Linked DNA regions of Homo sapiens: regions 1, 2 and 4 are each linked to region 3. The links come from fine-mapping of genetic effects on gene expression. A gene starts in region 3. Each other region holds a variant in brackets. All regions are shown on one strand. Distances are from middle to middle.

Region 1 (8,000 bases), 22 kb before region 3:
GTGCCATGAGGTCTAACCACTGACCTACTCACTGAAATCCGAGAATGAGAATGGGCCAGCCCAGGGGCTTCTACACATATGGGTCATCTCTCAACTCCCTTCTTTTTTTTTTTTTTTTTTTTTTTTTTGAGATGGAGTCTTACTCTGTCACCCAGGCTGGAGTGCAATGGCGCCATTTCAGCTCACTGCAACCTCCGCCTCCCAGGTTCAAGCAATTCTCTGCCTCAGCCTCCCGAGTAGCTGGGATTACAGGCGCCCGCCACCACGCCCAGCTAATTTTTGTATTTTTAATAGAGACGGGGTTTCACCATCTTGGCCAGGCTGATCTTGAACTCCTGACCTCGTGATCCACCTGCCTCAGCCTCCCAAAGTGCTGGGATTACAGGCGTGAGCCACTGCCCCCGGCCCCAACTCCCTTCTTTAGCTTCCCCGTAAACACTGCTGACCCCAAAGCTGCATCAGCTTTTGGCCTCTTCCCCTTTCACCCACACACTGTCCTGGATAACCTCCCCAGTCTCCACCTCTGGCTTAAACATAGATCCATGGGCTGATGGAGACATCTGCCTCCCGAGACCCTGATCTGTGTCCCTCCCCAGGACACTGGGCTCAGAAGCTTCCCCTAAACCTGTTCCTCCTCCCGGTGCCCCCATCTCACGATGGCCCCACCATCCCGCAGTCACGGGCAGACCCCTAGGAGCCATCCTCCTCCTGACCTCCTCCTCGCCCACCTCCCCCACCATCAGTGCCCACCCCTGCCGCCTGACGCTTGTGCCCTGCTCCCCTCTGCCTGCCCCAGCTCAGGCCTCCTCCTCTGCCCTGGACCCTCCCCCAGCCTCCTCTCAAGCTGCCCAGGCTCTAGTCTCCCCAGCCTGGTACCAGAAACGTCTTCCCACACACCCAGAGTGATGCTGCTCACAGCCCCCAGTGGCTCCCCGCTGCCTCCAGGACAAAGTCTGATCTTTTCAGGCTCAGCTTTGAGCCCTGACTGGCCTTCCCTTCTGCACCCCTCCAGCCTCATGCTCTTTTCTCCTCTAAGAAATTTTTGTCCTCATGGTGGTCCACATGCCCCCAGCTCTGTGTTCCTCACACCCACTATACCTGTGTATCACCCTCCCTTTCCAGAATGCCTTTCCCTTCCCCACACAGGAACTCCTGCTCAGCCCTCAAGAACTAGCTCCAATGTCCCCTCCTCCAGGAAGCCTTCCCTGATACCTTTAGGGAGGAACTGGCCACACCCAACATCCCCTCCCCACCCAGGTCAGAGCCCACTTGCCCATCTCCCCTTCTAGACCAGGATGGGGGCCATGTCCAGGTCATTTCTATGCCTTGACACTGACTGGTTTGGGAGTCTGAGAGATGCGAGATGCATGAGTGAGTGAAGGGGCACTGCCTTCCCTCTGAGGTCCTGGCCAGAAGGGGGAAGCCAGGTGGACCAAGAAGAAGGCTGAAATTAGATGGGGGCAGCAAGGCTTCTGGGAGGGGGTGAGATTCGAACAAAGTGCTGAAGAACACGCACTCATGTGCCACGCAAAGACAGGCAGGGAAACAATAGGTGCCAGATGTGTAGGTGGGAGAGCCCTGAGGGCAGGTGGTCTGGGCACTGTACACTGTTCACAGAACCAGAGCTGCCATAAAAGACATGGACTGAGGTAAGTGGGGATCTTGGTTCTGCTGAGATTCAGGGCAAAGAGAGTGACCATGAGGCCTTCCCCAGAGAGTCAGAAGGCGGGTACCTGGCACGCAGTGGCTCACGCCTGTAATCCCAGCACTTTGGGAGGCCGAGGCAGGCAGATCACTTGAGGTCAGGAGTTCGAGACCAGCCTGACCAACATGATGAAACCCTGTCTCTACTAAAAATGCAAAAATGAGCCAGGTGTGGTGGCAGGCGCCTGTAATCCCAGCTACTTGGGAGGGTGAGGTGGGAGAATCACTTGAACCTGGGAGGCAGAGGTTTCAGTGAGCTGAGATGGCGCCACTGCACTCCAGCCTGGGCAACAGAGCGACACTCCATCTCAAAAAAAAAAAAAAAAAAAAAAGACATTGAGGGGCTAGCAGGGGCCTTGAACATGAGGCTGAGGGGCAAGAATTCTGTGGCTCCAGGCACTGGGGAGCTACAGGAGGGCTGTGGGCAGGGGACGGACGGTAGATAAACTTCTCAGCCATCATGCCCTGTCAGCACTGACCAGTGGCACAGGGGACCAGCTTCTGTCCGTGGCCACAGTGATTCAGGCAACAAATAATCACTGAGCCCCCGGGAGGACACAGCACGCCTGGGACCCTCTCCCAGTCTCCTCTCCAGCTGCCCACATCCCTGCCTCCATGGAGCTCACAGTCTGGCTGGCTGGCTGAAAAATAGGCAAAATAACACGCAACCGGGATGAGCTGTGACCAGCCGGGCCAGCCGAATGAGGGGGGATGGGCGGCGTTAACAGTTCGGTAATATCGGAGGAGCAGTGGCATCTGAGTTGCCGTGGAGGGCAAGGCGGAGGGCATGGTGTGGGCAAAAGCCCAGGGGCTTGAGAGTGGTGAATGGCCAGCCGTGGGCAGAACCACGAGGAGAAGCCGAGTGTGGGCTCCAGGCCCGGCCTCCACCCTGGCTGCCCGGGCAGCTCAGCACCATGTCTGCTTCTTCCACAACAGGCCCTCAAAGACCTCAAGGCACTGGGCTGCAGAAAGGCGATGAAGAAGTTTGAAAGGCACACGCTCTTGGTAAGTGGGGATCTTGGTTCTGCTGAGATGCAGGGCAAAGAGAGTGACCATGAGGCCTTCCCCAGAGAGTCAGAAGGCGGGTACCTGGCACCCTAGTCCTGCCACCGCCTTCCTGCCTGACCCGGGGGCTGGACACGCCCCCTGTCTGGACCTCCGTTTCCCTCATCTGTCAGAGAGTGGGGACAGGATCCTACGGTCCAAGGACATGTCATGGGACCAGGAGGCCCAGCTGCGGAGGGGCTCTCTCAGGGGTGCAGCCTGCCTGGGCCCTAACCTCGGCCTGTGCCCAACCTGCAGGAATATCTTCTCGGGGAGGGGAACCTGAGCCGGCCGGCCGTGCAGCTTCTGGGAGACGTGATGTCCGAGGATGGCTTCTTCTATCTCAGCTTCGCCGAGGCCCTCCGGGCCCACAGCTGCCTCAGCGACAGACTCCAGTAAGGGGCGGGGCTGGCGGGCAGGGGGGGGGGGCGGGGGGCAATCAGGGAAAGTAGCAGGGAGTGGGAGGAGCCTCTGGGTCTGGGGGCGGGGCTGTTGTGAAGGGCGTGGCCTAATTGATGGTCGCGGGGCTAAGGGTTCCCAGATAAAGGACACGGCCTAGGGGAGAAGTGGTGGGGTCCCTGGTGACACAATCCACTACTCCTGCGGCCTTTGGGATGTCAGGGACGGGCGGGGTCGGGAGAGGTGGATGACGGGGGAGCGGGCCGGTGCCCATAAGGGCCAGCTGCCGGGGTGGGTGGGGCAAGGCAGAGGGGCAGGGCCGCAGAGCCCAGGTCACGCCCCCACCCCGCCCCGCCCCGCCTGCAGGTACAGCCGCATCGTGGGTGGCTGGGACCTGCTGCCGCGCGCGCTGCTGAGCTCGCTGTCCGGGCTTGTGCTGTTGAACGCGCCCGTGGTGGCGATGACCCAGGGACCGCACGATGTGCACGTGCAGATCGAGACCTCTCCCCCGGCGCGGAATCTGAAGGTGCTGAAGGCCGACGTGGTGCTGCTGACGGCGAGCGGACCGGCGGTGAAGCGCATCACCTTCTCGCCGCCGCTGCCCCGCCACATGCAGGAGGCGCTGCGGAGGCTGCACTACGTGCCGGCCACCAAGGTGTTCCTAAGCTTCCGCAGGCCCTTCTGGCGCGAGGAGCACATTGAAGGCGGCCACTCAAACACCGATCGCCCGTCGCGCATGATTTTCTACCCGCCGCCGCGCGAGGGCGCGCTGCTGCTGGCCTCGTACACGTGGTCGGACGCGGCGGCAGCGTTCGCCGGCTTGAGCCGGGAAGAGGCGTTGCGCTTGGCGCTCGACGACGTGGCGGCATTGCACGGGCCTGTCGTGCGCCAGCTCTGGGACGGCACCGGCGTCGTCAAGCGTTGGGCGGAGGACCAGCACAGCCAGGGTGGCTT[T/C]GTGGTACAGCCGCCGGCGCTCTGGCAAACCGAAAAGGATGACTGGACGGTCCCTTATGGCCGCATCTACTTTGCCGGCGAGCACACCGCCTACCCGCACGGCTGGGTGGAGACGGCGGTCAAGTCGGCGCTGCGCGCCGCCATCAAGATCAACAGCCGGAAGGGGCCTGCATCGGACACGGCCAGCCCCGAGGGGCACGCATCTGACATGGAGGGGCAGGGGCATGTGCATGGGGTGGCCAGCAGCCCCTCGCATGACCTGGCAAAGGAAGAAGGCAGCCACCCTCCAGTCCAAGGCCAGTTATCTCTCCAAAACACGACCCACACGAGGACCTCGCATTAAAGTATTTTCGGAAAAAGCCGTGTGGTCCAGCCTCCCCCGTGGCTCAGTTACTTCCCCAGTTTGCCTGCATCGGAACCACTAGCCCTGCAGTTAGCAGGCGCCACGCCCATCCTGGAGCCCCCCCAAAAATCTGCCCCTCACTTCTTCCTGGACAGTGGGGCTCCAGAGGAGGGTGGGGGGTGGTGCGCACAGAGGGAACCGGAAGGACGCCCTGCACCACCGGGAAATGGCAATCACAGCGACCACCTCTGTCACGAGGCTGAAGTCCAGATGGGCCCTAATGCAAGTAACAGAAAGCCCAGCTGACAGTGGCTGAACAGGAGGTGATTTTTCTCACAAGCAGCAGCTGGGAGGGCAGGCTCCCCAGAGTGCATCTCTGCAGGCCCTTCCACCTTGGTTATGTCCGGGAAGTGTTCCCACACAGCTACCAGGTCGCCGCCACAGCCCAGAGCACCCTATCCTCTTCCAAAAACCCCAAATCAGGCCGGGCGCGGTGGCTCACGCCTGTAATACCAGCACTTTGGGAGGCCAAGGCAGGCAGATCACCTGAGGTCGGGAGTTCAAGACCAGCCTGGGCAACATGGTGGAACCCCATCTCTACCAAAATTACAAAAATCAGCCGGGTGTGGTGGCACACGCCTGTAGTCCCAGCTACTCAGGAGGCTGAGGCAGGGTAATTGCTTGAACCCGGGAGGCGGAGGCTGCAGTTAGCCGAGATCTGCCACTGCACTCCAGCCTGGGCGACAGAGCAAGACTCCATCTCATAAAACAAACAAACAAAAAAACAAATCAGGCAACTCAGGAAGCCCTGCCTCCACAAACCCCAATCATTCACCCTAGGCTCTGCCCAGCCACCATCCCCTCCTCAACCAGGTCAGAGCCCACTTGGCAGCCTTCCCCCCACCAACAAGAAGCCAACTGCACATGAGAAGTGTCAGTTTAATGAAGCCAGCTTATCAGCAGGGCGGCGGAGCACACCTGCCCCCTCGCAGGTGTGCCTGGCTCGGGCTAAAGTGCCTGTGCAGAACGAGGCTGCCTGGCGGGGTTAGGAGTCGGCGCCCTCGTCCTCCTCCTCGGGCAGGATCTCCAGGCTGCTGTCGGGCTGCGGGGCTGTGTCCGTGGAGGGCGGCGGGGTGGGCGGGGCCCGGGTGGGCGACAGAGGCAGCGGGGAGGCGGTGGGCGAGGGGCTGTGGGGCTCTGCGGGCGGGGCCAGCCCCAGGATCTCCTGCACGTTGTGGGGCAGCTCCTGGAGGCACGGGATGAGAGAAGCGAAAAGCGGAAGGTGAAGGTGAGAAGGGGGCGGGGGTCGGTCGGGGTTCGGGCGGGGCGCTGCGGGGCGGACGGGGACTCACGGGGCAGGCGGTTAGCTGGCGGTGCAGGGCCTCGGCGCGGGTCAGCACGTCCTCCACGCTCAGCTTCATAGTCAGCTCGTTGATGTGCTGCGGGAGGGGGTGGGTCAGGCGCCAGTCGGCACTCAACCACCTCCGCCCGAGCGCCCACTCTGTGCTTCGTGCTGGGAAACAATGAAGACACACCGGGCTGGCCCTCTGGGGGCTCAGAAGTGCGCTGGGCGAGACATGCTTCTCAGGCCTCCGGGAGCATTCTGAGCACGTACTCGGGGAGGGAAGGTCCCCACCCACCTGCCCGGAGGACCTTGCTGGGAGCAGGCATGGCATGGGGCAGAAGGGAAACCTACGCGGCCCCACCCCCACTGCGCTCCCAACTAACCAGGCTTTCAATAATCCCACACTAAACACCTGCTCCCCGGAGGTACTGCGGCCCTGGGCAGCGCCCAGCTCAGGGGGGACAGGGCGGGGGCGGGGCCGGAGCCTCACCTTGAGGATCTCATTGGAGCCGAAGCCGGACAGCATGAGGGTGTCCCTCTCCATGTCCAGGATGGCGCAGGCCACCAGCAGGTGCAGATTGGGGCCAGGGAGCCCTGTCCACAGCACCTGAGGGTGCGGGACAGAGGGAGGGAGGGAGGTCATAGCCCAGCCTGGGCCTGAGGTCCCACCAGGGTCTGTCCCTCTCCGCCCAACCTCCCAGGGCAGGTGAGCCCACCCCTTCAGGCCTCTCGCCCAAACTGGCTGGCCCACCTCCCACAGCCGAAGGACATCCGGGAAGGGGAATTCCCTCTTGAACCAGATGAGCAGCCACCGGAAACAGAAGCAGAGAGAGCCGGAGTCCTGGGAATCTGGGGGATGACATGGAGCCCACTCAGCCTTGCCCAGCGCTGGGACTGAGAGTTTGAGAAGTCATCCTGACTGGAAGACCTTCCCCAAGTCTAGGCAAGTGACTTATGCCTGGCTGGGGAACCTCGGAGGTGAGGCAGGAGCAGCCCTGAACGCGGGCCCTGCCCCTCCTTCCTCCCACTCTCCAGAGGAAGTGTGCTATTATACTTCCACATCTGCCATGGACATGGAAGGGAGGCAGGACGCCCAGCACGCCCGACGAAACAGACCTCTGCCCGCTGCTGGTGAGCGCTAAGGGAACTGACACTCCTAGATACGCTGTAGCAAAAATTTAAGCTGAAGGCCGGGTGCGATGGCGCACGCCTGTAACCCCAGCACTTTGGGAGGGTGAGGCGGGTGGATCACCTGAGGTCAGGAGTTCGAGACCAGCCAGGCCAACATGGTAAAACCCCATCTCTACTAAAAATACAGCCTGGCCAACGTGGTGAAACCCCATCTCTACTAAAAATACAAAAATTAGCTGGGATGGTGCCACACCCCTGTAATTCCAGCTCCTTGGGAGGCTGAGGCAGGAGAATCGCTTGAACCCGGGAGGTGGAGGTTGTAGTGAGCCGAGATCACACCACTGCACTCCAGCCTGGGTAACAGAGCGAGACTCCATCTCAAAAAGAAAAAAAAAATTAAGCTGGTGTTGAACCTTTTTTTCCCCCCAAGTTAACTCAAATGAAAGTGAGAGTCTGAGCATTCTAACCTTTGAGGAAAGTAACAACGGAGGACAAACTCTCCAAAGCTGTGTGAAAACAAGCACTGTCCTGAACAAAATTCCACTTCTTGGAAGTGAACCTAAAGAAGAAATTACCCAGACTATGCACCGTGATGAAAAACTGCAAAGGACCCGAATCTCCAGCAGGTCAAGTTACATCAAATCTACCACATCTTGCAGGTGGACACAATGCCGCGCAGTCAAGAAAAGTGATGTTTCAGAAGACTTTGAATGACCCAGAGGCAGCCTCTGTCCTTGTGCCCTAGGAGGTGATGCTTTTCTATGGCTTAGTTTCCTCATCAGTAAGGTGAGGACAGAGTATCTCAGCTCCCTCCCCCGGGGGTCCTAAAGCATCGAGGAAATGTTCATGAATAAGTTTAACTTATTATCATCACCATCTGCACTCAAGAAAAACAATGATATCAAACAGCAACTTTAACTTTCTTTTTTCTTTTTTTTTGAGACAAAGTCTCGCTCTGTCGCCCAGGCTGGAATGCAGTGGTGCAACCTTGGCTCAAGTGATTCTCCTGTCTCAGCCTCCTGAGTAGCTGGGATTACAGGTGCTCGCCACCACCCCCGGCTAATTTTTGTATTTTTAGTA
Region 2 (8,000 bases), 840 kb after region 3:
CTGTCAGCCATGGCGGTCGTCACCTGTGGTAAACAGAATGGCGGGAGCAAGTGGGATGTCCCACTACTCGGGCTGAGGCAGGAGAATCACAGGAACCTAGGAGGTGGAACCTCCTCGCCCAGGAGGGGCGCGGCTTCGGACTTAGTTTCTGCCCAATGAGAGAGGGCCTCCCCGTGACTGTGCTGCCAGGTTAGCCACTTGACCCTGGTGCCGCCAACGAGGGATTCAGCCCGAGCCCCACCTCTCCCTTAGGGACCTCTGCCCACTCTACCCTCAAGCCAGGATGCCCGGAGCGGTCCCCGGAAATGCGTGTGCTTCAGGTGATTTAACTGATTATTGAATAGGCCCGCAGGAGGTGTGTCCTGCCCCCGAGGCCTCAGCCTCAGAGGACATTATCTGGACTTAGTCCCTTCCCCGCGATGCCATCAAGCTGGACAATTTTAAGGTCTGTTTCTTTCCCAGTGTAGGGTATAGGTTGGCACAGGGAAGAGGGCTAGAAACCTGACTTGAGCTCCCCGCCCAGGGCTGAACTCTCCAGCATCCTGATCACTTCTCATTGAACCTTGCTTATACTCCCCGTGTGATCGGTAGCTCTTTATCTCAAAACAAAATATTCTAAGCCGACCCCTGCCCACTCTCACCAAGTAAGATTTCTCATTTGAACCCCAGCTCCCAGATACTTAAAGGCCTTCTGTAGACCATGTCCTCAAGGTCCCCTGGCCATCTGCTTGCATGTTCCAGTTTCCCTCCTCCCCCATGCACATCGTGAAATGTGCCCTCCCACTCCCCAGGATGAGCAAGGTGGTGTCCTCTGTGACTGAGCAGTCAGCAACTTAACACCAAAGGTCACCAATGATCAAATCCATGAGAGTTGATCCGAGGAGTTATGTATTAGGGCTACGAAAGAGTAAACACTCAGTAAATAGTGGCTATTATTATTATCATCATCATCATGATTACCCTCAAGTTCCCCTGGGAGAGCTCCTATTCAACCTTCAAAACCCCACGTTGTTGCACCCATCCTACAGAGATTGAGCTCAAATTCAGAGAGTTGTGATTTTGCGATGATTTGATGAGTTCCCCAACTGGGGTCCGTCCGTAGAGCAGCTGGGCCAACCCTGAGGTCTCTCAGCATCCAGCTCTGTTCTTTTTCTGCCTGACCAGTTCCTGGGTATAAGTCTCAGGCCCGGCCAGTCCGGCTGAGGAGTGTGCAGACACAGGCTGTGCCAGTTTGAATCCATCGCCAGTCCACACGGCCCTGGGCATCAGCGGTCAATGCCCGCACATAGGACTGCTTGGCCTTGCACTCAGACACCCAGTGCCCCCCGGTCCACACCCCAGCGGCAGCCCCTCCACCTACCCCTGGGCCACCTTCTTCAGAGTTATCGGCCTTGAAGCAGGTGACAAAGAAGTGTTGGTGGAGGGAACTGCTGCCAGCTGCAGGCACCTCACCCAACACCTCCACCTCGAGCACAACCAAGTCCACAGCGGTCCGGGGGTCTGTCACCCAGACACTGACTGCATCGCACACGGCCAGCTCACCCTGATGACTCGCCGGTGAAGTATCGCTCACCCCTCGCTGGCTGCGGTTGGCCCGGGTGCCTGCTGACTCCCAAAAGGCCCCAGTCTCCAGCAGGAAGACCAGAGGGGGCCCGGCAGCGGCACCCCTAGACAGGACCACTTGGGGGAAAATAAGGTCCCACTCTGGAGGAGGAAAAGGGGACAATGTCAAGGGTGGGGGTTAGGACTCCATTGACACACTGGGGAGGAAGCAAATGAGGGGGATGCAGAGGGAGCCTGGGGGAGCGGGAGCATCTCTCAGAGGACATGGAAACAGGGAAAAGGAGGCTGGGATTAGAGAAGAGGATAAACACTTCAGTGAGGTCAGAAGTTGGGAACCCCAGGGGAGGCCTGCCTGCCAGGATTATGGGGAAGCCCTTGCTCTAGAAGTTTGGGGGACTCCATGTATGGGACTTGCATCACACCCAACTTGTAGATTAATAATAAATATTCAACAACTACAGGTCAGGCACTATGGCTCACACCTGTGGTCCCAGCACTTTGGGAGGCTGAGGCGGGTGTTTGACTTGAGGTCAGGAGTTCAAAAGCAGCCTGGCCAACACTGTGAAACAACATCTCTACTGTTAATACCAAAATTAGCTGGGCGTGGTGCTGCGCTCCTGTAATCCCACCACTTTGGGAGGCCCAGGCGGGCGGATCATGTGGTCAGGGGATCGAGACCTTCCTGGCTAACACGGTGAAACCCCGTCTCTACTAAAAATACAAAAACTTATCTGGGCTTGGTCGCGGGCCCCTGTAGTCCAAGCTACTTGGAAGGCTGAGGCAGGAGAATGGAGTGAACCTAGGAGGGGGAGCTTGCAGTGAGCAGAGATCGCGCCACTGCACTCCAGCCTCCACGACAGAGCGAGACTCCATCTCAAAAAAAAAAAAAAAAAGAAAGAAAGAAAGAAAAAGAAAACAGGGTGGAGATGCAGGATGACCTCCAGCTCAGGAGGTGTCCATGGTCTGGCCTTCTGTGGGGAGAAGGAAGGCCACGTGATCGGTGTGGCCCAGGTGGCAGGGCCTCAGCCTTCTAAGCCGAGCTCCCTCTTCCTCCCTCTGATGTTGGCACTGGCAGTGCAGGTGGGGCGGAGAGGGGCGCGGCTTGGGGACCTGAATGGGATGAATGGGCCGAGGGGGATGTCATCTCTTCCATCCTCCTTCATCCACTGCCTCTCCCTTCCCCTCCTCCCCCCTCCCCTCCGTCCATCTGCCTCCCATCCCAGCTAGGACCCATCACCTGGGTAGAAAAGGGGCCTCTGGAAAGGGGGCGGGGCCTTGACTCTTGGGTACCCTGCACTTGAAGAGGAACTCTGGGAAGGGGTTGTTCAGGGATTTGGCCCCTTCCCCACCTGGCTGTATAACCTTCCTGTGCTTTTCTTCTGCTAGCCGGTTGCCCCTCCCTCTCCTGAGATGTCAGGAAAGAGGGGGCCACCTGCGTCCTCCACAGGGGCCCCGAAGCCTGGGGTTCCCAGCCCCAGAGCTCGGAGGTGGAGGAGGTGCTACAGCTCTGGTGACCACTGGTTGTTTCCCAGTCTTCTCCACGCCAACCTTTCCCAGAACCACAGGCTTCCAGAATGTTGTAGGGAAACTGCAAAATCCGCGCCTCCACCAGCCTCTCCCAGCGCCAGGTCAATTTCACACACAGGGAAACTGAAGCCTGCCTCAGAGGGGCAGCGTTTTACCTCCTTAGTGGCAGTTTTGAGGTGAATCGGGGTCTCCCTAGGATTCCAGGTTGTGCACTTTCTCTAAATTGTGGAATGTGGCCAGGCGTGGTGGCTTGAGTCTGTAGTCCCAGCTACTCAGGAGCCACAGCAGGAGGATGGCTTGAGCCCAGGAGTTCAAGTGCAGTGGGGAAACATAGGGAGACCTCGTCTTAAAGCAATTTGTTTGGGGCCAGGCGTGGTTTCTCAGGCCTATAATCCCAGCACTCTGGGAGGCCAGGGCAGGAGTATCACTGGAGGTTGGGAGTTTGAGACCAGTCTGGCCAATGTTGTGAAACTGCATCTCTACTAAAAATACAAAAATTAGCAGGGCACGGTGGCAGGCGCTTGTAATTCCAGTTACTCAGAAGGCTGAGGCAGGAGAGTCACTTGAACCCAGGAGGCAGGCGCTACAGTGAGCCAGGATTGTGCCACTGTACTCCAGCCTGGCCAGACAGAGTGAGGCTCTGTCTCAAAAAAAAAAAAAAAAAAATTGGGCCGGGTGCAGTGGCTCATGCCTGTAATCCCAGCACTTTGGGAGGCCGAGGCAGGCAGATCACAAGGTCAGGAGATCAAGACCATCCTGGCTAACACGGGGAAACCCCGTCTCTACTAAAAAATACAACAAATTAGCCAGGCATAGTGGTGGGTGCCTGTAGTCCCAGCTACTCGGGAGGCTGAGGCAGGAGAGTGGTGTAAACCCGGGAGGTGGACCTGCAGTTAGCCGAGATCGCGCCACTGCAGTCCAGCCTGGGCGACAAGTGAGACACCCCCTCAAAAAAAAATTGATTGGAACATCCTCCAGGGTGCAAGACCCTCGGTTCCTCAGAGTTCTACAGGAAGGATAGCAGAGTGCAGTTGCCCAGAGGTGAAGTCCCATCTCTGCCATTTGTTGGCTGTGTGACCAGGCACAAATCATTAATTTCTCTGAGCCTGTATTTTACCATCTGTTGCTATTGAGTAATAGTAGTTGAATATTTTCTACTTTTATTTTTATTTTATTTTTATTTTTATTTTTTTTGAGACGGAGTCTGGCCCTGTCACCTAGGCTGGAGTGCAGTGGCGCGCTCTCGGCTCACTACACCTCTGCTTCATGGGTCCAAGCGATTCTCCTGCCTCAGCCTCCTGAGTAGCTGGGAGTACAGGTGCGCACCACCATACCCAGCTAATTTTTGTGTTTTTTTTTTAGTAGAGACAGGGATTCACCATGTTGGCCAGGCTGGTCTCAAAGTCTTGACCTCAGGTGATGCACCCACCTCGGCCTCCCAAAGCGCTGGGATTGCAGGCGTGAACCACTGCACCCGGCCGAACATTT[T/A]TATCTTTATTTTATGATTATTATTATTATTTTTTTAAGATGGAGCTTTGTTTTTGTTGCCCAAGCTGAAGTGCAATGGCGCGATCTTGGCTCACTGCAACCTCTGCCTCCTGGGATCAAGTGATTCTCCTGCCTTAGCCTCCCAAGTAGCTGGGATTATAAGCATGCAGCACCACGCTGGAGGATATTTTGTATTTTTAGTAGAGGTGCGGTTTCTCTATGTTGGTCAGGCTGGTCTGGAACTCCTCACCTCAGCTGATCCACCCACTGCAGCCTCCGACAATGCTGGCATTACAAGTGTGAGCCACCATGCCCGGCCTTATTTTTATTTTTATTTTTTTTGTGAGACAGAGTCTCACTCTGTTGTCCAGGCGGAAGTGCAGTGGCACCATCTTGGCTCACTGCAATCTCGGCCTCCCGGGTTCAAGCGATTCTCCTGCCTCAGCCTCCTGAGTAGCTGAGACCACAGGCGTGCAGCACCAGGCCTGGCTAATTTTGGTATTATCAGTAGAGATGTTGTTTCACAGTGTTGGCCAGGCTGCTCTCGAACTCCTGACCTCAAGTCATCCACCCGCCTCAGCCTCCCAAAGTGCTGGGATTACAGGTGTGAGCCATAGTGCCTGACCTGTAGTTGTTGAATATTTATTATTAATCTACAAGTTGGGTGTGATGCAAGTCCTATATATGGAGTCCCCCAAACTTCTAGAGCAAGGGCTTCCCCATAATCCTGGCAGGCAGGCCTCCCCTGGGGTTTCCAACTTCTGACCCCACTGAAGTGTTTATCCTCTTCTCTAATCCCAGCCTCCTTTTCCCTGTCTCCATGTGCTCTGAGAGATGCTCTGAGAGATGCTCCCACTCCCCCAGGCTCCCTCCGCATCCCCCTCATTTTCCTCCTCCCCAGTGTGTCAATGGAGTCCTAACCCCATCCTCGACATTGTCGCCTTTTCCTCCTCCAGAGTGGGACCTTCTTTTCCCCCGAGTGGTCCTGTCTAGGGGTGCCGCTGCCGGGCCCCCTCTGGTCTTCCTGCTGGAGACTGGAGCCTTTCGGGAGTCAGCAGGCGCCCGGGCCAACCGCAGCCAGCGAGGGGTGAGCGATACTTCACCGGCGAGTCATCAGGGTGAGCTGGCCGTGTGCGATGCAGTCAGTGTCTGGGTGACAGACCCCTGGACTGCTGTGGACTTGGGTGTGCTCGAGGTGGAGGTGTTGGGCGAGGTGCCTGCAGCTGTCGGCAGTTCCCTCCGCCAGCACTTCTTTGTTGCCCACTTCGAGGCCGATAAATCTGAGGAAGGTGGCCCGGGGGTAGGTGGAGGGGGCTGCCGCCGGGGTGTGGACCGGGGGGCACTGGGTGTCTGAGTGCAAGGCCAAGCAGTCCTATGTGCGGGCATTGACCGCTGATGCCCAGGGCCGTGTGGACTGGCGATGGATTCAAACTGGCACAGCCTGTGTCTGCACACTCCTCAGCCGGACTGGCCGGGCCTGAGACTTATACCCAGGAACTGGTCAGGCAGAAAAAGAACAGAGCTGGATGCTGAGAGACCTCAGGGTTGGCCCAGCTGCTCTACGGACGGACCCCAGTTGGGGAACTCATCAAATCATCACAAAATCACAACTCTCTGAATTTGAGCTCAATCTCTGCAGGATGGGTGCCACCACATGTGGTTTTGAAGGTTGAATAGGAGCTCTCCCAGGGGAACTTGAGGGTAATCATGATGATGATGATGATGATGATAATAATAATAGCCACTATTTACTGAGTGTTTACTCTTTCGTAGCCCTAATACATAACTCCTCGGATCAACTCTCATGGATTTGATCATTGGTGACCTTTGGTGTTAAGTTGCTGACTGCTCAGTCACAGAGGACACCACCTTGCTCATCCTGGGGAGTGGGAGGGCACATTTCACGATGTGCATGGGGGAGGAGGGAAACTGGAACATGCAAGCAGATGGCCAGGGGACCTTGAGGACATGGTCTACAGAAGGCCTTTAAGTATCTGGGAGCTGGGGTTCAAATGAGAAATCTTACTTGGTGAGAGCAGGCAGGGGTTGGCTTAGAATATTCTGTTTTGAGATAAAGAGCTACCGATCACACGGGGAGTATAAGCAAGGTTCAATGAGAAGTGATCAGGATGCTGGAGAGTTCAGCCCTGGGCGGGGAGCTCAAGTCAGGTTTCTAGCCCTCTTCCCTGTGCCAACCTATACCCTACATTGGGAAAGAAACAGACCTTAAAATTGTCCAGCTTGATGGCATCGCGGGGAAGGGACTAAGTCCAGATAATGTCCTCCGAGGCTTCGGCCCCATGGGCAGGACACACCTCCTGCGGGCCTATTCAATAATCAGTTAAATCACCTGAAGCACACGCATTTCCGGGGACAGCTCCGGGCATCCTGGCTTGAGGGTAGGGTGGGCGGAGGTCCCTAAGGGAGAGGTGGGGCTCGGGCTGAATCCCTCGTTGGCGGCACCAGGGTCAAGTGGCTTCCCTGGCAGCACAGTCACGGGGAGGCCCTCTCTCATTGGGCAGAAACTAAGTCCGAAGCCGCGCCCCTCCTGGGAGGTTGGACTGTGGTGCAGGAAAGCCTCAAGTAGAGGAGGGTTGAGGCTTCAGTCCAGCACCTTTCTCGGGTCACGGCCTCCTCCTGGCTCCCAGGACCCCACCATAGGCAGAGGCAGGCCTTCCTACACCCTACTCCCTGTGCCTCCAGCCTCGACTAGTCCCTAGCACTCGACGACTGAGTCTCTGAGGTCACTTCACCGTGGTCTCCGCCTCACCCTTGGCGCTGGACCAGTGAGAGGAGAGGGCTGGGGCGCTCCGCTGAGCCACTCCTGCGCCCCCCTGGCCTTGTCTACCTCTTGCCCCCCGAGGGGTTAGTGTCGAGCTCACCCCAGCATCCTATCACCTCCTGGTGGCCTTGCCGCCCCCACAACCCCGAGGTATAAAGCCAGGTACACGAGGCAGGGGACGCACCAAGGATGGAGATGTTCCAGGTAAGACTGCAGGGCCCCTGGGCACCTTCCACCTCCTTCCAGGCAATCACTGGCATGAGAAGGGGTCAGACCAGTGTGAGCTGTGGAAGGAGGCCTCTTTCTGGAGGAGCGTGACCCCCAGTAAGCTTCAGGTGGGGCATTTCCTGAAGGTGCGGATCTGAAATGTTGGGGTATCTCAGGTCCTCTGGGCTGTGGGGTGGGCTCTGAAAGGCAGGTGTCCGGGTGGTGGGTCCTGAATAGGAGATGCCGGGAAGGGTCTCTGGGTCTTTGTGGGTGGTGTACCACGCGGGATGGGAAGGCCAGGACTCGGGGCTGCGGTCTCAGACCCGGGTGAAGCAGTGTCCTTGTCCCAGGGGCTGCTGCTGTTGCTGCTGCTGAGCATGGGCGGGACATGGGCATCCAAGGAGCCGCTTCGGCCACGGTGCCGCCCCATCAA
Region 3 (8,000 bases):
TCCCCCCTTCTGTGAGTCAGACCCCGAGAGTACAGATGGTGAGTGTCCCAGGCTGTTCCCCTCCCGACCTGAGGGCAGGCACACGGCCGACACAAAGGCAGGGACAGAAGCTGAAGTCCACCCTCTCTTTCAGATGGCAGCCTGAGCGAGGAGACCCCCGCCGGCCCCCCCACCTGCTCAGTGCCCCCAGCCTCAGCCCTACCCACACAGCAGTACGCCAAGTCCCTGCCTGTGTCTGTGCCCGTCTGGGGCTTCAAGGAGAAGAGGACAGAGGCGCGGTCATCAGATGAGGAGAATGGGCCGGTGAGGGGCAAATGTGGGGAGGTAGGGAGGGCAGCTGGAAGGGCTCTGAGCCGCCTCCTCCAGGAAGCCCTCCAGCATGGATGCTGCTTTCCACCCATAAGCTAACTGAATCCTCCCCTCAACCTCAAGAGGCGAGTTCTTGGACACGAGCCTTGCAGTTTTAACAATTGCAGCCTTACCATGTGTCCTAGTGCCTTATAGAGAAGGCCTCTCCTTTCCAGGAGCGTCTCTATTTATAGAACACCTGCTCTGGGCAAGGCACAGGTGTTTTGGCATGCCCTCCAGTGGAGAAACTGAGGCTTGGAGGGTTCAGATCACCTCCCATCCCCACCCTGCACATTCCTAGCCCTTTGCAGAATTTGTCCCACCCCCTGGTCCCCTGTTCACCCCTTGTAGCAACCCCTGTTTGAAGCTCCTGGGCTGGGCTCTGCTGGCCTAGGTGGGTCCTCCTCACCCTTCACTGAGCCTCCCTGAAGCAGAGGGGAAACTGAGGCACTGAGGGGACATGTGACTTCCCTGAGAGGCAGAGCTGGGACTGGAACCCAGGTGTGTTTCAGGAAGGAGCTGTGGGCTTTGAGGGAGGAGGCCTGGGTCCCCACAGTCCCCCCCTCAAGCCTCAGTGTCCTTATATGCAAACCAGCAGTCACAGTGGTGACCTTTTCTGTGCATCCTCCCTCAATGAAGCAGTGAGCACTGAAGACCAGGAACAGGGCCTGGTGCGGGCGGGGTCCACCTGCTGCTGCTCTCTGTGCTTGCGACTCATGGCAACACAGTTAATTGAATGCTCTGGCCTCTTGCGTGCTGTGCCCGGGGGCTGGTCTCCCACTGGGCTCAGGTCCAGTTCCTGATCTGGGTCTCCGGGTCCCATCCTGCGAGGGGACAGGCCCAGCTCCGGGTGACGGGGGCTGTAGTGGAGGCAGTACTAGGTGCCAGAACTGCAGGCTCCTTGGCGGGGGCTGACACAGCGAGGGATCTTTTCTGTAGCGCAGTGGCCACATGATAAGGCAGTAACAGCTGATTATCTCAGCCCTCACAGAGACCCTGTTATCCGCCCCATTTTTCAGAAGGGGAGACTGAGGCCTAGGGAAGCAAAACCTCTTGCTCATAGTTTGTCAGCGGCAGAGGTCTGATTGGAACATGACTGAAACCCCAGCCCAGATCCTCAGACATGAGACGGTGCACTCAGCCTTAATGGCTAGCAGGCAACAGCACTTCCACTGTGTAGGAAGCAATGTCCTAGGCCAAGAAGGGGAGAGGGAGAGGGGCAGGTAGGCTTCGTGGAGGAGGTGTCTGAACCGGGTAGAAGGGTTCCTACGTGGAGCAAGACGGGGAGGGGCACTGCTGGCAGTGGGCATCGCAGGGCACAGGTGGCAGGGCAGGGACGTGCTAGAAGTGGGCTTGGAGCCCGGGTGCACCCCTGGACCGCGTGTGGGTGCAGGGGGATTGCCCTGCCGGCGCTGACCTCGCCCCGTCGCCGTCCCCGCAGCCCTCTTCGCCCGACCTGGACCGCATCGCGGCGAGCATGCGCGCGCTGGTGCTGCGAGAGGCCGAGGACACCCAGGTCTTCGGGGACCTGCCACGGCCGCGGCTTAACACCAGCGACTTCCAGAAGCTGAAGCGGAAATATTGAAGTCCAGGGAGGGAGCGCCCCGGGCCGCGTCCGCCCCGTCCCACACTACGCCCCCGCCCCACTCCCGGGGCCTGCTAATCTGAGGCCGATCCGGGACCGGCCTCCTTGCGTCTCCCATTCCCAAGATTGTCCCGCCTCTGCCAATCCCCGCCGTCCTTCCAGCCCACGACCTGCCGCGCCGAGGAGCGGCATCTGTCCCGTTTCCCGATTGGGTCTGTCGTCTCTCTCCGCCTAGCGACAGATTCCTTCTATTAAGGGATTGGCTCGCTGAGTTCTAAGCTCTAAATGGGTCAACTCCTTTGTTTTCCGCCTAGCGACAAGGGATTTGCTCGCACGGCATTGGCTCCATCCCCTAGTCGCTGGACAGCTCTTTTTTTGATTGGCTCAAATCCTGTAAAGGGCTTGACCAGTCTCTACATAGTCACCGTCCGCTTTTCCTGAGTTCTCCCTCCCAATTGGCTCCAGCTTCCTGGGGGCGTGGCCAAGCCCTCCTCTTCCCAGAATTGGCCCGGGGCCTTCAATTTACGTTCTTTACACTACGGGGACTGGGGTCGTCTTTGCCCACGTCCCGACAACTTGTTCCCTGACCCCCTCAGGGATGGCCCCAAACTGTCCCTGCCTCTGGCACCCCCTTTCATTGGTTCCATCCATCCCCACAACAGCCTGCCAATCGAAGCCCGTCCCTGCATCCAGGATGGTACCAGCTCCCGCCCCTCGCCCCCCACCTCCACAGGTGCCTTAAAGGGCCCTCGTCCACCCAAGGTGGGGGGCAGGGGCCCTCACTCTCCGGCCCTGGTGTGGGGGAGAGAGTGAGGGGTTGGGGGATCGGCAGTTGGGAGGGGCGCTCTGAGATTAAAGAGTTTTACCTCTGAGATAAATGTGAAGTGTGTTGTGAGTGTTCATTCAACATTTTCTGAAACCGAATGGCAGCGTCTGATTATCAGTGAATAGCTGGGGGTTGGAATTACTGTGCCCATTTTATTTACTTTTTTGAGACAGGGTCCCACTCTCGCCCAGGTTCAAGCGATTCTCCTGCCTCAACCTCCCGAGTAGCTGGGATTACGCGCCACTGCCGCCCGGGTAATTTTTGTATTTTCAGTAGAAACAGGGTTTCATCATGTTGGTCAGGATGGTCTTGAACTCCTGACCTCAAATGATCCACCCGCCTTGGCCTCCCAAAGTGCTGGGATTACAGGCGTGAGCCACGGCGCCTGGCTTTGTGCCCATTTTATAGATATGAAGACACAGGTTCATGGGGTGGAGGAGAGCATCCCAGTCTTATGTGACCATGGAACCCAATCTTGAGGAGGTGAGTGTTGGAGACAGAGCCCACATATTCACCAGCAAAGCCAGGAACTCCAGCCGGGAGTCTTCTATTATAAAAGGACTGGAGCAACTGGGCTTGGTGCCTCACGCCTATAAGCCCAACACGCTGGGAGGCCAAGGCGGGAGGATCACATGACACCAGGAGGTCGAGATCAGCCTGGGCAGCACAGTGAGACCCCTTCTCCAAAGGGAAAAAAAAATGGCTGGAGGTTAGAAAGCAGGTGGAACCTCGTCCGAAATTAGGACTAGGTAAACGTAGTCCCACCAGACCACTACCGAAAGAATGCTAACACTAAATAAGACTTAAACGGATCTGAGCACTTTGGGAGGCCGAGGTGGGCGGATCACGAGATCAGGAGATCGAGACCGTCCTGGCTAACACGGTGAAACCCCGTCTCTACTCAAAATACAAAAAATTAGCTGGGCGTGGTGGCGGGCGCCTGTAGTCCCAGCTACTCGGGAGGCTGAGACAGGAGAATGGCGTCAACCCGGGAGGCGGAGCTTGCAGGTGAGCCGAGATCGCGCCACTGCACTCCAGCCTGGGCGACAGAGTGAGACTCCGTCTCAAAAAAAAAAAAAAAAAAAGACTTAAACAGGGCTCACTACCACCCATTTTTTAAAGCTTTTGTCACGTGTTAGCTCCTTTAATCGTCATGGTAACCCCACGAAGCGGAAACGATTATCCTTTTTATAGATGAGGAAACTAGAACATCGAGGGTGAAGCCAAAGAAGGACTTAGGGGCGCTGTCGGGGGCGGAGGTTTCCTCGACTGACAATGACCATCAGATGGGAAAAAAATCTTCCTCCCTGGGATGAAAATTAGAAGTCAAGGTGGAAAGAGGCAAATCTGCTAACGGAGGATCCAGTCCCCGCTACCGGCCTGAGCCTCGCGTTGCAGCAAGAGAGATGAAGGTCAGGGCTGCCGAGAGACCCTGGGGGCCGGGAGTCGGGGAAGGGGCGTGGCTGCTGTGGGAGGAGGCCAGGCCCCGCCCCCCACCCACGAGGGGACGAGTCATTTCCGTCCGCCGAGGAACCGACCGCCGCCGGCCGGGTTGCAGGCGGGGCACCTCGGGCAGGACCTCCCTGGTCGGAAGTGGCCGTGAGCCCAAGCCGCGGTCCCGGGTGAGTACGGGGCGGGGCGGAGGCATGTGCGAGGCTCTCTGCCTGTACGCTGGAAAGTGGGGATTGCAACTCGGGGAGGGATGGAGCACGCGTCGTCGCCTGGGAAACGGGTCGACCCGCGGAAGGCGAGCGGGTGGGACTTCCGGAGCAGTTAATGGTGGGGAAACTTTCTAGTGGATGTGGGAGGAGGCGGGACTTCCTGCAGCAAATTGGGGCTGTGCGCCGCTCAAGCCCGTTTACCTGCTCCCCAGGCCGGCACCCAGGATGGGCGAGGTGGAGGCCCCGGGCCGCTTGTGGCTCGAGAGCCCCCCTGGGGGAGCGCCCCCCATCTTCCTGCCCTCGGACGGGCAAGCCCTGGTCCTGGGCAGGGGACCCCTGACCCAGGTTACGGACCGGAAGTGCTCCAGAACTCAAGGTGAGCGGGGCCTGAGCTGGAGGGGGTGTGGCCTGCTGCAAAAGCGGGAACAATCCAGAGGGACGCTTGGCTGCTACGCGGGATTGCAGTGGTGCAGCCAGCCCCGAAGTCGGAAGGTGCTCTCTAGGGAGTACAGGAAGATAAAGTTTGTGCTTGATTTAGAATTAGCTAGATCCTTTGGGGGAGAGGGGATCGAGCCGATTTAGGGAGGATGTTCACTGCGCGGATGATGCTCAGGCCATCGGGAAATCCAGAAACAGGCGACGACCTTCGTCAAGAGAAAAATGATCCTGTGGAGAAAAGTAAATGTCGCTAGGTTGGGATGGATGGTAACAGGCCAAGCCCCGGACCTATATCTAGCCACATTTTTTGTCAAGGAGGAAACCAATTCTGTAGAGAAAAGTACCTCCCTGTCCCTTGCAAGGACCAGTGTCAGGCAATCCTAGTGCCACTATCTGGCTACTGCATGTCAAGGAGCCAATCCCATGTAGAAATAAACTGCCTCTTACTCCCTGGATGCTATAGCCTGAAGCAGGCCACACTCCCCAGAAATGAGGGACCCAATCACACAAGGATGCAAATCCTGACTCCACCCCTCCAATCCTCAGTGGAGCTGGTCGCAGATCCTGAGACCCGGACAGTGGCAGTGAAACAGGTATCAGTGCCTCTGCAAGGGCCAGCAAGGCCTGGGGATGGGATTTGGGGAGGAATTGCAAGCCGTCAGTGAAGGGGTACATTAGGAAAATCTGATTGGGGCCGGGCGTGGTGGCTCAAGCCTGTAATCCCAGCACTTTGGGAGGCCGAGGCGGGCGGATCGCTTGAACCCAGGAGTTCGAGACCAGCCTGAGCGACATGGTGAAACCTGTCTCTCTAAAAAATTAGCGGGAATGGTGGCGCGTCCTTGTAGTTCCTAATCGGGAGGCTGAAGCGGGAGGATCCCTTGAGCCCAGTAGGTCAAGGGTGTAGTGAGCAGTGATCACCACACTGTACTTCAGCCTGGGTGACAGAGCGAGAACCTGTCTCAAAAAAAGAAAAGAAAAAATATGGCTGGGAGAGAAGGGGATGTGTCCAGTAAAGAAAGAAGTGTTGCCTGTTTCAGTGGGGTGGGTACCTGTCCAAGACCTTAGAAATTGGACAAGGCGGCCAGGCGCGGTGGCTCACGCCTGTAATCCCAGCACTTTGGGAGGCTAGGCGGGCGGATCACCCGAGATCAGGAGTTTGTGACCAGCCTGGCCAACATGGCGAAACCCCATCTCTACTAAAAATACAAAAATTAGCGGGGCATGGTGGCGGGTGCCTGTAATCCCAGCTACTCGGGTAGCTGAGGCAGGAGAATCGTTTGAACCCAGGAGGCACAGGTTTCAATGAGCCAAGATTGCACCACTGCACTCCAGCCTGGGCGACAAAACAAGCCTATATCTCCAGGGGAAAAAAAAAAAAAAAAAAAAAAAAGATTCGGACAAGGCTGAAAACCTGTAACCGTTCCAAAGCCCGTTCCAAAGTGAAGAGGTGGGGCCTAAGGGTCTGATAGTGGTGGAGAAGGGCTGATTTTTCCGCTGGGTATTTGATTGGAGGAAGCTCCCGGTGGGGGCGGAGCCAGTCCCAGCTCCTCCCTCTCTTTCTGCAGCTGGGAGTTAACCCCTCAACTACCGGGACCCAGGAGTTGAAGCCGGGGTTGGAGGGCTCTCTGGGGGTGGGGGACACACTGTATTTGGTCAATGGCCTCCACCCACTGACCCTGCGCTGGGAAGAGACCCGCACACCAGAATCCCAGCCAGATACTCCGCCTGGCACCCCTCTGGTGTCCCAAGATGAGAAGAGAGATGCTGAGCTGCCGAAGAAGCGTATGCGGAAGTCAAACCCCGGCTGGGAGAACTTGGAGAAGTTGCTAGTGTTCACCGCAGCTGGGGTGAAACCCCAGGGCAAGGTGAGGGCCACGCCGAGGGCTGAGGGAGCCGCCACAGACTGGGACCCAATCCCACGTTTGTTGCGTGCTCTCAACTTTTTAGCCTCTACTTACTTTTCTGAGAAATGGGCCTAATGATAAATGCAGGGATCGTTGTAAGCAGTTAAGCAGTGGGGAGAATGATATATGTCAGCTCCTGCGTTACCCACAGTGACCACCCAGTAATCAGCAATGACCATGACTGTCTCAGTAGGAGCTATTACGATGAGGATTTTTTATGTCCAGAGAGACTTGAGTTCAAATGCTGTTACCACCACATTCTGAGTCCCATGTGTCTCATCTCTACGATGCTGAATCCATAAAAAAAGCACGTGGCATAGTTCCTGACATGCAGTTAGCACCCAAAGCTTTGCTCCTGCTTTTATTTTCACGGTTATTAGCCCACCGAGGTGGTGAAGGCCAGGGGAAGAAGGAGGCTGGGTAAGACATTAACCCCCATTTTAAAGACTGTAATCCTGGGGCTGGCGTCATAAGGAGTAACAGGAGACAGTAAGGTTAAGATGTCGGGCCCCACTCAGAGGCATCACGGATGCTTGAGATGGAGGTGCTCTGTGACTCGGTTTCCCCATCTGTGAGATGGCAGTGATAACACCCTGCCTGGCAGGGTTGGTGTGAGTCAGCCTGTGAGTGAGGAGGGTCAGAGGTATCACAGTGCTGCTGTTTGTCTTTCCTTGGTGACACCAGGTGGCTGGCTTTGATCTGGACGGGACGCTCATCACCACACGCTCTGGGAAGGTCTTTCCCACTGGCCCCAGTGACTGGAGGTGATAAGAGGCAAAACAAGGGAGTGAGTGAGGCCTGGAGTCCACCTCTGGCCCCGGGTCACCCCTGCCGCTTCATACCTGCCGTAGGATCTTGTACCCAGAGATTCCCCGTAAGCTCCGAGAGCTGGAAGCCGAGGGCTACAAGGTATGTGCAGCCGCCTGTCTGCATGGGCACGTGCACGTGGCGGTCCGACCGCAGTCAGACCAAGGCCCTGGTGAGCAGAGCGTCTGGTGACACCCTTTGCTCCCCAGCTGGTGATCTTCACCAACCAGATGAGCATCGGGCGCGGGAAGCTGCCAGCCGAGGAGTTCAAGGCCAAGGTGGAGGCTGTGGTGGAGAAGCTGGGGGTCCCCTTCCAGGTATGGCTGGAAGGGAGGCTGGGAGCTATGTGGGGGCACAGAGATCCAGAGCGAGGGCTTTAGACTCCAGGGTAAGCGGGGCGGAGGCCTCAGGCAGTGTGATGCTGATAGGAA
Region 4 (8,000 bases), 550 kb before region 3:
GCCTGGAGAAGGGGTGGAAGAACTCCCCCAGCCTTGCCTGCCTGGGGGCTCCGGAGGTGAAGGGCAAGGGGAAATGGAAGTGTTTCACTTAACAGAGGCAGGGGTCAATGCTTTTTAAATACACCTCCAGGCCAGGCGTGGTGGCTCACGCCTGTCATCCCAACACTTTGGGGGGCCGAGGCGGGCAGATCACCTGAGGTCAGGAGTTCAAGACCAGTCTAGCCAACATGGTGAAATCCCGTCTCTACTAAAAATACAAAAATTAGCTAGGCGTGGTGGCGCACGCCTGTAATCCTAGCACTTTGGGAGGCTGAGGCCAGTGAATCACCTGAGGTCAGGAGTTCGAGACCAGCCTGCACAACATGGGGAAACCCCATCTCTACTGAAAATACAAAAATTAGCTGGGCCTGGTGGCAGATGTCTGTAATCCCAGCTACTCTGGAGGCCGAGGCAGGAGAATCGCTTGAACCTGGGAGGTGGAGGTTGCAGTGAGCTGAGATCGCGCCACTGCACTCCAGCCTGGGTGACAGAGTGAGACTCTGTCTCGAAAAATAAATAGGCCGGGCATGGTGGCTCATGCCTGTAATCCCAGCACTTTGGAAGGCCAAGGCAGGCAGATCATGAGGTCAGGAGATCGATACCAGCCTGGCCAACATGGTGAAACCCCGTCTCTACTAAAAATACAAAAATTAGCCAGGCATGGTGGTGCGCACCTGTAGTCCCAGCTACTTGGGAGGCTGAGGCAGGAGAATCGCTTGAACCCAGGAGGCTGAGGTTGCAGTGAGCCGAGATCGCACCACTGTACTCCAGCCCGGCGACAGAGCAAAACTCTGTCTCAATAAATAAATAAATAAATAAATCTCCATATGTTGATTCGCCCCATGAATCATGTGTTGTTGCTTCAAGAACTCGAGTCTAGGAAAAACTAAAGCTAGATCCACACCATGCCTAGGACCTGGCAGTCTCACTCCTTGGCATTTAATCAAGAGAACTGAAAATGGATGTGCACAAAATAGCCTTGTTCCAGAATCATCCCAGCAGCTTTATTATGAGTCTCCAACTGGAAACAGCCCAGGTGTCATCAACAGAAGAAGGGATAAACAGACTGTGGTGTGGGCTGATCATAGATAGAGTACTATACAGCAAGGAAAAAGGACAAACACTGACACACACTTCATGTTGAGTGAGGGAAGCCAGACCCCAAAAGGGACATGCTGTATGACTCACTTTACATAAAGTTCAAAAGCAGGCAGCTGGGTGCGGTGGCTCACGCCTGTAATCCCAGCAATTTGGGAGGCTGAGGTGGGAGGATCACTTGAGCTCAGGAGTTTGAAACCAGCCCGGATAACATGGTGAAACCCTGCCTCTACTAAAAATACAAAAATTAGCTGGGCATGGTGGCACATGCCTGTAATCCCAGCTACTTGGGAGGCTGAGGCAGGAGAATTGCTTGAACCCGGGAGGTGGAGCTTGCAGTGAGCCAAGACGCTGCCACTGCACTCCAGCCTGGGTGACAGAGCGAGACTCCTTCTCAAAAAGCAAAACAAAAAAAAGAGCAGGCAAAACAAATTACAAATTGGTGGCGGAAAATATCAGAGAAAGGTATTGACTGAGAAGGGACAGGAAGGAATATTTCAGAGATTGAAATGTTCGGTATCTTGATCTGGCTTGTGGCTACACGGTGTATAGATAATGCAAAAACACAAGATTTGTCACTTTACTGACTTGTTAGTTACACTTCAATTAAAAAACAAACAAACAAAAACAAACAAAAAAAACATGGCTGGGGTGTGAATGTGGAGGGGCATAAACAGGGGCTTTCTTTCAACCACATCAGTAAGATTTGATTACTCAGACTGGATTGTGGGTTCAAGGGTGTTGGGTATAGTATTCCGTATCTGAACTGTTAGAGAACACAATTTTTAAAAATACGAACAAAAAGAAGGAAAGGAACATGAAAATACATTGTCTGAATATGGGATGGGCAGAGAGAGATACAAAGCCACAAGGAAGTGGATTCAAGCCTGAGAGGGGGAGAGAGACATCAAAAATACGGATGCGGGGTAGCAGGAGATACCAAGGGGGAGCTCAGAAACAAAGTGACAGGAAGAGGTGGGAGGGGAAACTGAGGCAGGAAGCAAATGACTTCTCTGAGGGAGGTCACTGTGGGCCACCCCTCCCTGGCCCCCAGGGGCCCCAACTCACCAGACAGCTGAAGTGTGGCCCGTCGAGCCTGGAGGGGGAGAGACACAGGGGCATGCTGAGGCTGCCTCCAGCCACCTGAATCTCAAAGTGGTTGGGGGCTGATGGGGAGGCGGCAGCAGCTGTGACCACCGCAGCCCTGTGTGAGGGACCAGCCCCACCACATTCACCGGACTCCCCCACTACCCCCTGCTGGGACAGGAAGTGGGGGGTGGGGGGGAGGCAAATGTCCCCCTCCTCCCCAGAATTTGCATAGACACCCTGGTGGGGAGGGGCAGGGAAAGTGAGGGAGAGAAAGTCCCGGAAAGGAGGTGTGGGGATGGAGAGGGGGCCTGGGTCAAGTGCGGCCTTGGTGGCGAGTCAGTTGAGTCCAGCTTGGACCAGAGGAGAAGGATGGAGAGATGTCTGGGTAGAGAGGGGGAAGCCCGGAGAAGACTCAGATGAGGAGGCTCAAGGAGAGGTGGGACACAGAGAAAGGTGTGCAAAGGGACATTCACGCACAGAGGCGGGGAGGATTCCTGGAGCCCCAGATGGAGGCACTGAGAGTGAGGGTGAGGCAGAAGGAGACCAAAAGGCAGGGAGAGCGAGAACTGGAGACAGAGACACAGAGACAGGCAGAGAGACAGAGAGCAACAGGCAGAATGTTGAGAGCTGGGAGATGCCAGATACAGAGCGAACAGATACGGGAACTCGGGGAGACAGGAGGATGGACAGAGTGAGAGCCACGGAGGACGCCCGCAGGAGGGCACGCTAGCAAGTGTTCTGGGGAAATGAGATCTTTGGGGACCAGGAAAGATAGGAACTGGGGGGATGGAGAGTCCGAAGTGAAGAGGGAACAGAACCAGAAGGGGCAAGAGACAGGGTGGACCCCTCCCCTCCACTCCCACCCACCGGCCGTGAGGAGCAGAGAAACCACTGCCCATGGGTGAGGCCCCACAGAGGGGCAGTGCAGGTGGGGACCCCGGGTGCAGGTTTGGGGGCCCTCACTTACTGTGCAGCCTCCAGGGCGAGCATGGTGGTGCCGGGCGGGCTGTTTGCCGCCCGCTGCAGCCGCCAACCCTATTTATATCTTGGCCCAGCCCCTGCCGGGGGGAGGAGGGTGCCCGCTGGCCACAAGCTCGGCCCTCCTCAAAAATCCCCTCAGGGAGGGGGTCAGGGGAGGGGGCTGGATTGCACAACCCCTTTGTCACATGGCAGGGATGG[C/T]GGGCCAGGGGCTGTCTGGATTTGGGGATCCCCGTGGGGCTGGGTTTGGGGGGCTGACCTTGAGGGCTGGAGATGGGACAGGAGCTGGATTTGGGGGAACCCTGAAAACATCGAGGAAGGGCTGGGGTTCACTGAAGAGGAGAATCAGGAAACGGAGGATCTGGACCCAGGAGCCGAATTCCAGCAGGGGCGGGCTGGGGGCCGAGGGGCAAGCACAAGACTCTCCCCGGGGGATGTGTGAGGTGACGGGAGGGCCGAGGGCATCTGACGGCAGTTAGAGGCTGCGGGGATAGAGATGGGAGTCGCTGGGGGGAAACCCAGACCCAAAGCCCATTGCCAGGACCCCGACGTGGAAACATCGTGGGTGTGTGGTCCGGCGGGGGATGGGGGGGTCCCCTTGGCCGGGCTGAGGAGTGGAAGCCCCGGTGCGCCTGGGGCTGCCCCAGGGCCTGGAGGAAACAGGTCAGCACCTGGAGGGCGGGGCAGCCACCAGGGTCCCCAGGGTCATCACCAGGGAGGGCTGGGCCGGGGCCAGACACCTGGGGGCCCTAAGCAGGGCAGAGAAGCGCTGGTATAAGGGTTCCTTCAGGGCCAGAGAGGAAACTGAGGCAGGCTTGGCCCACATGAACCAGGCAGCACAGGTGGGAGTCCGGGGGCTTTTGCTGAGGATGAGGGGCGGTGCGGGCCTCAGGAGGGTCCCAGCCAAGGCCAGGGCTTATGAAACCAGACAGTGTCCCCCAGAGACCACAAAGCACCATATAGCAAAAGTCCAGAACTTTATTAATTCTCCCTGGTCCCGCCCCCGCCCCATGGGATGCTTGCAAGGTCACCAGGCCTCAGGTCCAGGGGGTCCGAAGCGCCGCAGGAGCTGCTCCTGGTCTTCCAGGTCCTTCCGCACCTTCTTGCGCATGTAGAAGATGGGGCAGTCCCGGCTGCGGGTGGGGGCAGGGGCAGGGTCAGGACCAGCCAAGGCCCAGTGCCCAGCCTGGGAGAGGGGTGGGGGCTGTTCCCAGGACTTTGGTCCCCGCCTGCTGCCCAGCCCACCCGCCCCCTCCCGCAGCGGGCTGTTTGCTCAGCAGGCACGGGGGGGGTGGGGGGGGGGAGCCGATAACAGCGGGTGCCTGGCGAGGTGCAGGGCCATGGCTGGCCGTATATCACCTGTCACCTGGCGTGGGAACCCACCCCGCCTACCCGTTCCCTGGGGAAAGCCCGGCCCCGCCCTGGGGAGGGGGCCAGGCTGGCTGGGTGTGTCGGGAGGACAGCCGTTTCCCGGGCAACACTGGGTGCCGGGCGCTGCCTCCCTAAGCACCCACCCCCTCTGGGGGGCTGGGATGGGCCCATTTTTCAGACAAGGACACTGAGGCTCAGGACAGCTCACAGCTGGAAGGGGATGGGCGGGGAGGATGCTCAGGAGAGGCCTTGGAGTCAGAGGTTGGGTCCACAACCCACAGGCCTGGGAGCTGGGAAGGGGCGGGGCAGCCCAGGGTCGGGACATGGCACACACCTGGTGCAGATGACGTCCTCGTGCAGGCTGCCCTGGCAGCGCTGGCACTGCGTCCAGAGGCGCGAGAAGCGCTCCTCCAGGGCATTCAGATGGGATACCTGGGGACGGCAGCGGCTGAGCAGGGCGCCCCCGCCTCCCCACCTGGCCCCTCCTCACCTCCCGGCCCTCTCACCTCCTTCTGATACAGCTCAGACTCCCGGGGCTGGCAGAACTCACACACGGCTCCTGTGGGGAGGCGGGTCAGCCCAAGTGCTGGGGCCCAGCCAGGAACTGGGCCACCCCATCCCTGCCCACTGCCAATCCCAGCTTCTGAAAGTCCCCAGAGGCTGGAGAACAACGGAGCAAGTGTGCTGGGAAAACTCCCCTGGGGAACTCCCGGGGTGGGGGCCGAGGACCCTCTGTGGGGGGTGGAGACAGGGGCCACCCACCCAGGGGCCCTGGGCCCACTGGGTGGCAGTGCCAGCCGATGGGGTGGGTGTCTAGGATCTGGGGTGACGGCAGAGCAGGTTGAGGGCCAGTGGGGGCCCAGTGGCCAGGGCCGCTCACCCTGGTGGCTGAGCACTGTGCGGCAGCCAATGCAGCAGTTGCGGCGTTTGGCGAAGGCCAGGAGGCCGCCCACCTTGCCCGTGAGCACCGTCTTGCAGCGCGTGTGGTCCCCCCCTGCAGGAGAGGAGGCAGGTGGTGGGCCGGTGATCTCCTCTGCCCCCCCAGGGTGCCCCCAGTCCCCTGGTGCCCCCGTACGCAGTAGCACAGCCTCGGCACGGCCCTCGCCCAGGATGGGCTCGAAGATGCGCAGGAGGGGCTTGGCCAGCTGCTGCTCCAGGTAGTACTGCGTGTCAATGGGCAGGCTGTGCTCCAGCACGAACAGCGGGTCCTGCGGCCACATGGCAGTCACACCCGGGCAGCCAGGGAAAGGGCACCGGGGTGGACACGGGGTGGTCATGGGGCCTGGGGCTTAGGGCCTAGGCCTGCCTGCGGGCTGTGACATGGGGGGGGCCTGGGTCTGGGATGGGGTCGGAGGTCACGGAGTCTCTGGGCCACAGAGTCTGTAGGGCTCTCAGGTCACCACGGAAGGGTCAGAGTTCACAAGGGGAAGCAAGGATGAGGAAGGGGTCAGGAGGTCAGAGGTCATGGGGCTAAGATGTGGGTCACTGGGGGTGGGGGTAGAGCTGGAGGATTATGAATCCAAGGGAACCCCCGGCTGGGGAGCTGTATGCACAGGGGAGGGACTGGGGCCCCTTCCATAGGGAAGCAAGGGAGGGGTCAGAATAGAGGGGGGACCTCCAGAGGGGGCCGAGGCCACACCCAGGCTGCCATGGGGGGCGGTTCTCAGGGCCCCACAGGGCACGGGAGGCCCCACCCTTCCCGCAGGCCCGCCCATCTCGGAAAGCAGAAGTGAGAGCGAGGGGGCTGGGCGGGAGCAGGCAGCCAGGTGGGCCTGACCTCCGACTTCATGTAGGCGGCCACACCCTTGGCGGCACTGATGATCACGTAGGGGACGCGGTCGCCCAGGCTGGGCGCACTCCCGGGGTCCCGCTTCCTCATCCTGCGTGGAGATGGGGTGGCGGGTGGGTGAGGGCAGGTGGGTGGCGGGGGTGGGGGCGAGGGTGTAGGAAGTGGGCCCAGCTGGCAGGAAGGAGGGGGTTATTTCTGGCCAGGCCACCCGCCCCGCGCAGGACCTCTCGGCCAGCTCCACGTGGGCCTGCTTGCCGGCATAGTCGGAGGCCGCGCGGGTCAGCTCCTTGGTGATGACCAGCTGGGAGATATCGATGCGGTTGCACAGCAGGTCCGAGATGACGTCCTGTGCGTGAGCCACCGCGCCCTCAGGGTCTCTGTAGGAGAGCGGGCCGCACAGCGTCACCAAAAGGCACTGAGGGCCAGGCTGGTGCCTCCACGGGTCTCAGGGCTGGAGACCAGGATGAGCTCTTAGGGCTGAGGCTCAGGGCAGAGAGGGGCCCTTCCTACCATAGGCTGCAGAGTGGCAGAGGCAGGGCCTGAACCCACAGCTGCCCAAGCCGACTCTTTCCACTGCTTCACCACCGAGGAAGAGCTGGGCCTGACACCTGTGTTCCCAGAGGAGGAGGGGCTGGGGGTCTGGACTCTTGTATCTAAGAGAGGAAGGGGCTGGGGGCCCTGACCCCGGGATCTGAGGAGGAGGGGGCTGGGGGCCTGGACCCGTGGGTCTGAGGGAGGAGGGGCTGGGGCCTAGACTCCTGGGTCTGAGGGAGGAGGGGTTTGGGGCCCAGCCCCCTGAGTCTGAGGGAGGAGGCCCCACACACCGGTCGATGAGCAGGCGGCGCAGTGAGGCAGTGACCAGGTTGGCCACGAGGGGGCAGTTGTCCCTGCGCACGGCCTCCAGGCCCTTGCAGTCCATGCGGTCGTGGGCGTCGGGCCGGGAGGAGAAGAGCAGGCCCGCGTAGCGCTTCTTGCTGATAAGCAGGTATGGGAAGTAGACCTGGGAGGGAGCCATGGCCAAGACCCTGAGCCTGAGGAGGCCAAGCCCCAATCTGGAGACGCCCCCCAGAAACTGAAGGTAGACAGGGTCCCAGACGCAGTTTGAGGACATGGGAGCCGTGCCCTGAGCCTGGTGGGATGGACCGAGACACTGTATGGCTGGAAGTGGCTCCTGAGGCCCCTCGGCAATGCCAGAGCCCCCACACCAGAGACCCCAATCTGAAACAGAGACTGGGATAAATCCAGATAGTCCCTAAAACATGAGATCCAGACAGGCGAGTCGATGAAGCATCCCATGAAAGAGAGGAGAAACTACGGCTGGGTGAGCCCTGAGGCAGAGACCTCCCCACTCTGCGAGGCTCCAAGTCCAAGGCCTGGCACGAGAGAGCGTTAAGCCACGGGGAAACAGTACAGTGTGAGAACTGGGCGTGGCGGCTCAGGAGGCCAAGGCGGGAGGATCGCCGGAGCCCAGGAGTTGGAGGCTGCAGTGAGCTGTGAACTCGCCACTGCACTCCAGCCTGGGCGACAGAGCGAGACCCAGACTCTTCAAAAGAAAATATGGTGCAAGGTTTCCTGGGACCAAGTGTGCCGCACTCAGAGGGCCAGGGGCAATGGTGCACAGATCTAAGGTGCACCC

Evidence for each region. PIP is the estimated chance that this variant, and not a neighbour inherited with it, causes the effect.
Region 1: its variant is fine-mapped to the expression of PNKP in whole blood (TOPMed, PIP above 0.99).
Region 2: its variant is fine-mapped to the expression of PNKP in rectum (CEDAR, PIP 0.95).
Region 4: its variant is fine-mapped to the expression of PNKP in cerebellum (GTEx, PIP 0.98).

Annotation. Positions count from the first base shown.
Region 1 is chr19:49,886,114-49,894,113 of GRCh38, reverse strand. It overlaps TBC1D17 (TBC1 domain family member 17), which reads right to left. Exons shown (of 17, transcript NM_024682.3): 14 at 6,541-6,638; 15 at 6,280-6,396; 16 at 5,797-5,883; 17 at 5,364-5,690. The coding sequence ends at 5,490. It overlaps IL4I1 (interleukin 4 induced 1), which reads left to right. Exons shown (of 8, transcript NM_152899.2): 6 at 2,641-2,709; 7 at 3,007-3,143; 8 at 3,514-4,460. The coding sequence ends at 4,444. MIR4750 (microRNA 4750) reads right to left here and starts at 5,939; the gene lies at 5,884-5,939. It overlaps LOC124904743 (a long non-coding RNA gene), which reads left to right and starts at 6,638. Exons shown (of 4, transcript XR_007067293.1): 1 at 6,638-6,920; 2 at 7,351-7,668. RefSeq lists enhancers at 2,032-2,698, 2,699-3,367, 3,368-4,035 and silencers at 3,403-3,592, 3,823-3,992. The variant T/C (reference allele first, on the strand shown) is at 4,102.
Region 2 is chr19:49,023,521-49,031,520 of GRCh38, reverse strand. CGB3 (chorionic gonadotropin subunit beta 3) reads left to right here and starts at 7,188. Exons shown (of 3, transcript NM_000737.5): 1 at 7,188-7,564; 2 at 7,918-8,000. The coding sequence starts at 7,550. It also overlaps the pseudogene NTF6A and the pseudogene NTF6G. The variant T/A (reference allele first, on the strand shown) is at 4,579.
Region 3 is chr19:49,863,850-49,871,849 of GRCh38, reverse strand. It overlaps PNKP (polynucleotide kinase 3'-phosphatase), which reads left to right and starts at 4,274. Exons shown (of 17, transcript NM_007254.4): 1 at 4,274-4,381; 2 at 4,633-4,796; 3 at 5,405-5,451; 4 at 6,424-6,723; 5 at 7,447-7,526; 6 at 7,614-7,671; 7 at 7,779-7,886. The coding sequence starts at 4,646. It overlaps AKT1S1 (AKT1 substrate 1), which reads left to right. Exons shown (of 5, transcript NM_001098633.4): 3 at 1-38; 4 at 134-303; 5 at 1,790-2,811. The coding sequence ends at 1,933. RefSeq lists enhancers at 1,191-1,838, 4,037-4,818, 4,819-5,601, 5,602-6,384 and silencers at 1,754-2,063, 4,138-4,437, 4,508-4,877.
Region 4 is chr19:50,414,179-50,422,178 of GRCh38, reverse strand. POLD1 (DNA polymerase delta 1, catalytic subunit) reads right to left here. Exons shown (of 27, transcript NM_002691.4): 20 at 7,189-7,364; 21 at 6,589-6,741; 22 at 6,353-6,455; 23 at 5,651-5,783; 24 at 5,456-5,569; 25 at 5,082-5,134; 26 at 4,910-5,007; 27 at 4,165-4,337. The coding sequence ends at 4,232. SPIB (Spi-B transcription factor) reads right to left here and starts at 3,241. Exons shown (of 6, transcript NM_003121.5): 1 at 3,194-3,241; 2 at 2,206-2,233. The coding sequence starts at 3,216. RefSeq lists enhancers at 2,345-2,394, 5,815-5,874, 5,766-6,550, 6,551-7,335, 7,285-7,404 and silencers at 3,934-4,102, 4,385-4,444, 4,475-4,614, 6,145-6,304, 6,485-6,574 and 1 more. The variant C/T (reference allele first, on the strand shown) is at 3,406.